Regions from separate parts of the Homo sapiens genome. Here region 1 is linked to region 2. The links come from fine-mapping of genetic effects on gene expression. A gene starts in region 2. The other region holds a variant in brackets. All regions are shown on one strand. Distances are between the middles of the regions.

Region 1 (2,922 bases), 49 kb after region 2:
AAATCAGTACCACATTTGGACAGTATAGGTGAGAAAACATAATTATAAAAATGATGCCATGAAAAATTCCACAGATCAGTTTAGTTGTATAGTTGTCAAAGTTATATGTGATATCAATGAAGAAATATTTGTAGCATGTAAACGGTTATTTCTGTTTCTTAAAAAGTATTGTTAGTGGGCTATTAAACTTGGATTTTTCTTTTTATTAATGCAGTATGTTCTTTTTATTCAAGTATGAACTTGTTGAGAAACTATAGTAATATGATTTTTAAGAGATTTATGTTCTACTTAAAATGTGAATTGTACTTCTGAGCTGCCTTAATGCAAGGTCATTTATATTTGTTAAGAGGAAATAATCAAGATCACTCATATCCCAACTGAATCTGAGGTTTTATAAATCCCTCAAACGATTGCTGAGAGCCTGATTGTGGAAAGAAGTGAGATGCACCTTATTTTCAAGAAGTCCTGGGAAGCGCTCTCCTAGCACGTCCATTTCCAGGAGGAGAAGCAAGCAGATGAGAGGTTTTCCATTTTGTCATCCAAGGTAGCTGTGCACTTGCCTTGTTGCTGAAGTTCCAATAATGTGAAAACCAAAGTAGAGGTTTTTTTCTTCTTCTTTTTGTTTTCTATTAATTTCACTTATACCAAAGTGTTTGAAAGTATGAAATGTGTTGCTTCTGAGTTATATAAGGCTACTTCATGACAAGACTGCTTTGTAATATTTCACTTTGTTTTACTACAAATTCAGATCACTTTGTTTTACTATAAATTCAGATTATCCAAATATTTTCCTAATACTATGTGGGAATGCTGATTTTCTTTTGTTACGTAGTGGAAACATTTTGCATTGTTTACATAGTTCTCATGGAACATGGAAATTTTTGAAAGTGATATATGATACACATTTTTTGTGTATGTATTCTAATTAGTGTGAATAAAGCAGTAACATTAATGCATTTTTTAAGCAGCAAACTTATGTATTTCTCTTGTCTTCCTTAAAAGTGTCCCCATGAACTCAGTGTTTATTCCCTTTTCATTTTGAGTACCTGCTTATATGGTCAGTATGTAACGTTAGCATTGGCTCCTAATGGTAGAATTAGAACAGCAAGATTGTAGAGCTGTAATTGACTCCAGACAACATAGATTTCAGCCACCTCATTCTACAGCTGAGGCCAGGACAATAAATGCCTTTCCCAGACTGGGTAGTGGCAGATCTGGGATGGAATATGGTTTTCTTGATTCCCTTTCAGCCTTCATTTCTCTCTCTCAGGACTACTACTTTTTAATTACTTTTCACTTAATTTCCCAATACTGATGAAATAAAGAAAAATGAGGGTTATTTATATACATTTCAATAAAATCCAATTTGATTTTTCAACTTACATCTGATTTTTGTTTGTGTCATTCAGCCTGTCTTCTGAGTAATGGGCAGAGAAGGACCAGGGTTCGTAGAAGAAGCATGTGGCAGCTGAGTGGCAGCAGTCTTGCCCTTTCATT[T/G]TAATACTTGAGTACACAGAAAATAGAATTTTTGAGTGACTCTGCCTGTGGATATATATACTCATACATACATATATATATATACACACACACATATGTATGTATGTATGTATTACTATTCAGTCTCTTAAAAACCAAAAAACAGTAGATCCCCTGAGGGTAGAGTCTTTATGTATGAACATATTGTTCACTGTTGTAACCACCTTGCAGGATTTCAGTCTATAAACTAGGTGAGAATCCAGCTGCTGAGTGAAGCTTGATCTCTGCCTCTTCCTCAGGAGCAGCTCATCCCCTGACAACCTCCCCTCCCAGCCCCTAATCTGGTTTAATGCCCTCCTTTTCCCCAGATAAAGAAAGTCATGTCTGTAGTTATTCCAAAAGTGTTTCATGTGTAGAGTTTGGCACAAAAAGTAAAAAGCGCCAGCATCTGAAGTCAAAGGTGAAAGAGTCATCACAGTACTGATGAAGACACCCAGGCCTCGTCAGCTATGTTAACGTGCTGTATGACAAGAGGAACCTGCTTTCTAAGTCTGCTGGACACGCGTGCTTCTTGAATCCAACCAGACAAGCATGTTTTCTCAAAACCACAGTATAAGACAAGGAAACTGCACAGATTCGAGTGATTTTTGAGGTAAGTATGTTATTGGAAAGGTGTGATCTATATAGAACCCTGTACATGAAAAGGAGGAGATGCCGCTATCTTGGCAGGGATGATCATGTATTTGAAATAGTAACTCACAGCATTTGGTCTCATGATAAGAGTACTGAAGATTATCCCAGAAAACCTAGGATGATTGGTATTTATAGTACCATTGTTTCAGGTTTTTATGACTTGAGGCATCTAACTATCTTAATGCTGTACTTTAGTGTTTACCAAGCAGCTTTCTGGTGGAAACTTGAACTGCAGACACTGAGTGTTTTGGTTTTCCTCCAAGTTATAGTTCTCATTGTAACTTAATAAGTTGGCATTCCAGCTTAGTTTGAGTCAGTTTCCCAGGGCTGGGTCCTCAGAGGAGAGTGGATAGAATTCAGTTCCTCTATGAGCTGGGGTGCTGACATTGTGTTCCTGCTGTTGACTGTCCCTGCGGTGCACGGGACAGACTGTCAGCTAACCTGTCTTCATGACATTTCTATAATACTCCTCAGGGGGTTAACCCCATCTCTACTAAAAATAAAAAAAATTAGCTGGGCATGGTGGCATGTGCCTGTAGTCCCAGCTACAGGAGGCTGAGGCAGGAGAATTGCTTGAACCCAGGAGGTGGAGGTTGCAGTGAGTTGGGATCTCGCCACTGCACTCTAGCCTGAGTGACAGAGCGAGACTCTGTCTCAAAAAAAAATAAATGAATAAAAAATAAAACAGCAACTCTTGCAGATTTCCCGAATGTATTGGTCCCAGAGAACACTGAAAATAATGTCATGTTGTTA
Region 2 (2,922 bases):
TCAGCTTACTGTGGATATAGAAAGCTATCTAAAATGTCAGATCTCTAATTTCAATGCCCTGGTTTCTTTTTTTTTCTTTTTTTTTTTTTTAAGGAGACAGGGTCTCGCTGCACAGTGAGTGGCAAGATCAGGGTTAATTTGGCCTCAAGCAATATTCCCGCCTCAGCCTCCTGAGTAGCTGGCAATATAGGTGCTATGCCACCAAGCCCGGCTAATTTTTGTATTTTTAGTAGAGACGGGGTTTCACCATGTTGGCCAGGTTGGTCTCAACCTTCTGGGCTCAAGCTATCCTCCCGCTCTGCCTCACAAAGTGCTGGGATTGCAGGCCTGCGCCATGGCGTCTGGTTTGATTTCTCTTTTAAATATTTTTTTTGGCCAGGCGTGGTGGTTCATGCCTATAATCCCAGCAGTTTGGGAGGCCAAGGCGGGCAGATCACGAGGTCAGGAGATTGAGACCATCCTGGCCAACCCGGTGAAACCTCGTCTTTACTAAAAATACAAAAAATTAGCCAGGCGTGGTGGCGGACGCCTGTAGTCCCAGCTACTCGGAGGCTGAGGCAGGAGAATCGCTTGAACCCGGGAGGCGGAGATTGCAATGAGCCCAGACTGCACCGCTGCACTCCAGCCTGGGCGACACAGCAGACTTGTCTCAAAACAAAAAACAAAACCAACCAAAAAAACAAAAAACAAATGCAAAACAAAAAACAACAAAAATAAAACGAAATATTTTTTTCTCCCTATGGATTAAACACTTAAAAAATGTTTTACCACTTCTATTTCTGGGTCAACCACAATGTTCGGTTCCATCCAGAAAGACAAGTGGGTTTTGGAGAGGGTGTTTGGTTCCGCCTAGCATGCGAATTCCCATTCCCGCACAACGCTCTTCCTCCCTTCCTCCTTCCGGTAGCGTCCAGCAGGATTCCGCTGTTCCTCCAAAATCTTTGTCAGGAGAGCCATCCTGACGGTACCTTTAGGAAGCCCATAGATACCCGCCACAACCTGTGACTTTCAGGGTCAATTGCGTCTCAATTCGCACGTCTATCCAGAACCTGCGGGGACCACGTCCCCATCCTCCCGCCCGGCCTCCGCCTCCGAGGGTGTCACGTGCTAGACGCGGGCGTGAAGACAGTGTCGCCATGTTGATATCTGGCGTCGCCGTGTAGGGGAAGGGAGAGGGCGGCTGACTAGCTACCCGTAATTTCGGCTCCTGTGCGCAAGTGCGGAAGTGCGCTGGCCAGGAGCGTGATCGGTTTCCGGTCAGTGGTGTGGTACCGGGTACCCGGAGACGTGTATCGGACGGTGGGCCGCAGCCATGGCCGAGAGAAAACCTAACGGTGGCAGCGGCGGCGCCTCCACTTCCTCATCGGGCACTAACTTACTTTTCTCCTCCTCGGCCACGGAGTTCAGCTTCAATGTGCCCTTCATCCCAGTCACCCAGGCCTCCGCTTCTCCGGCCTCCCTGCTCTTACCGGGAGGTAATAAGGGGAGGGCGGCCCCGTGTGTGGTGGGAGGCGGGCGGGGGACGTGCAATGACAAAGGTCAGACGGGAGTTTTTCCTTCTGCCTCGAGCTACCCTCTGGATAGCTTGCCAGGATCATTACTGGCCAGGTTTGAGTGGGTCGGGGGCTTTGGGATCTTGGAGGTGGCAGGTGATGAGACTTGCTCTTCACGGAAACCCCCTGTTCCGAGTTGTCCAGAGTGCTGGACATTCATTCGTACCCTGGCATTCCGCAAATCTTTGCTGAATACCCGTTGTTGGTACGCCAGGTGCTGGCAGGAAATGCAAATAAATTAAACAGTGGCCCTCTCCTAGGGTACAGTAGTCTGTCTCCCACTAGGAGACTCCTAGGATACGGTAAGATACCTCCTAGGATGGACTGTGCCCCTCTCCTAGGATACGGTACACTGTCTCCTACTAGGAGATTGTTGTGATACAGTACAATATCTTCTAGGTTACAGTAAGATATCTTATAAGATGGACTGTGCCCCTCTTCTAGAAGCCTGTAATATTTGTGAAGTAGACATATACAATGCATTCCTTATCTTTTTTTTTTTTTTTTTTTTTTTGAGACGGAGTCTTGCTCTGTCGCCCAGGCTGGAATGCAGTGGCGCGATCTCGGCTCACTGCAGCCTCCACCTTCCAGGTTCAAGTGATTCTCCTGCCTCAGCCTCCCGAGTAGCTGGGACTACAGGCGTCTGCCACCATGCCTGGCTAATTTTTGTATTTGTAGTAGAGACAGGGTTCCACCATGTTGGCCAGGATGGTCTCAATCTCCTGACCTCAAGTGATCCGCCTGCCCTGGCCTCCCAAAGTGCTGGGATTACAGGTTTAACCCCCCACCCATTCCTCATCTTTCAAGACAATACATCACTTCTTCCAAGAAGCTGTTTCTTGTTCTCTTAGGCCCCCACTCCTATGTGCACTCCTAGCTCTTTTTTCATATTTGTATTATTGTCCAGGGAGATTGCTTTTTGATGATTATGTAGCATTGCCCAGAGCATAGTGTTTAAGAGCACAGACTGTCTGTATTCCAGTCCTTGCCCTGCCAGTAACTTGCTGTGTGACTGTAGGCATTTTACTTTACCTCTCTGTGCTTCAGTTTCTATGTATGTGTAGCCTCACAGAATTGTAATTAGAAATGCTTTAATTTTTGCAAAGCGCTAAGTATAGTGCGTGCCAGACAGTGTGATTTAATGTTTGTGAAATAAACACACCTGCCTCTCCATTTGGACTGCAGTCTTCTTCAGCAGCTATGACCTAATTGCCTTTTTATCTCCAGGATCTTATTTAGGGCCTAGTACATAGATCCTCTTTGGATGCTGAGTTTCCAGTGAATAATTTATTCTTGTTTGAAGGATGAAAGACAGTTTCATGGAGAAGCGAAGACAGGCACACTGGGAACAGCTGTACATGAAGGTTCC

Direction of the effects. Positions count from the first base shown, and alleles are read on the strand shown. Sizes are in standard deviations (SD) of each study's normalised expression.
As copies of G replace T in region 1, the expression in regulatory T cells of the gene that starts at base 1,260 in region 2 goes down (moderate effect, 0.46 SD a copy in Bossini-Castillo 2019).

What was found. PIP is the estimated chance that this variant, and not a neighbour inherited with it, causes the effect. A credible set is the group of variants that fine-mapping cannot tell apart.
Region 1: its variant is the best candidate, but not a certain one, in a credible set for the expression of SEC23IP in regulatory T cells (Bossini-Castillo 2019, PIP 0.57).

What each region holds. Positions count from the first base shown.
Region 1 is chr10:119,940,765-119,943,686 of GRCh38, forward strand. SEC23IP (SEC23 interacting protein) reads left to right here. Exons shown (of 19, transcript NM_007190.4): 19 at 1-2,922. Among named protein-coding and RNA genes, the nearest start is that of MIR4682, 16 kb to the right of the region's middle. The variant T/G (reference allele first, on the strand shown) is at 1,498.
Region 2 is chr10:119,891,471-119,894,392 of GRCh38, forward strand. It overlaps SEC23IP (SEC23 interacting protein), which reads left to right and starts at 1,260. Exons shown (of 19, transcript NM_007190.4): 1 at 1,260-1,475. The coding sequence starts at 1,313. RefSeq lists enhancers at 1-486, 487-997, 998-1,508.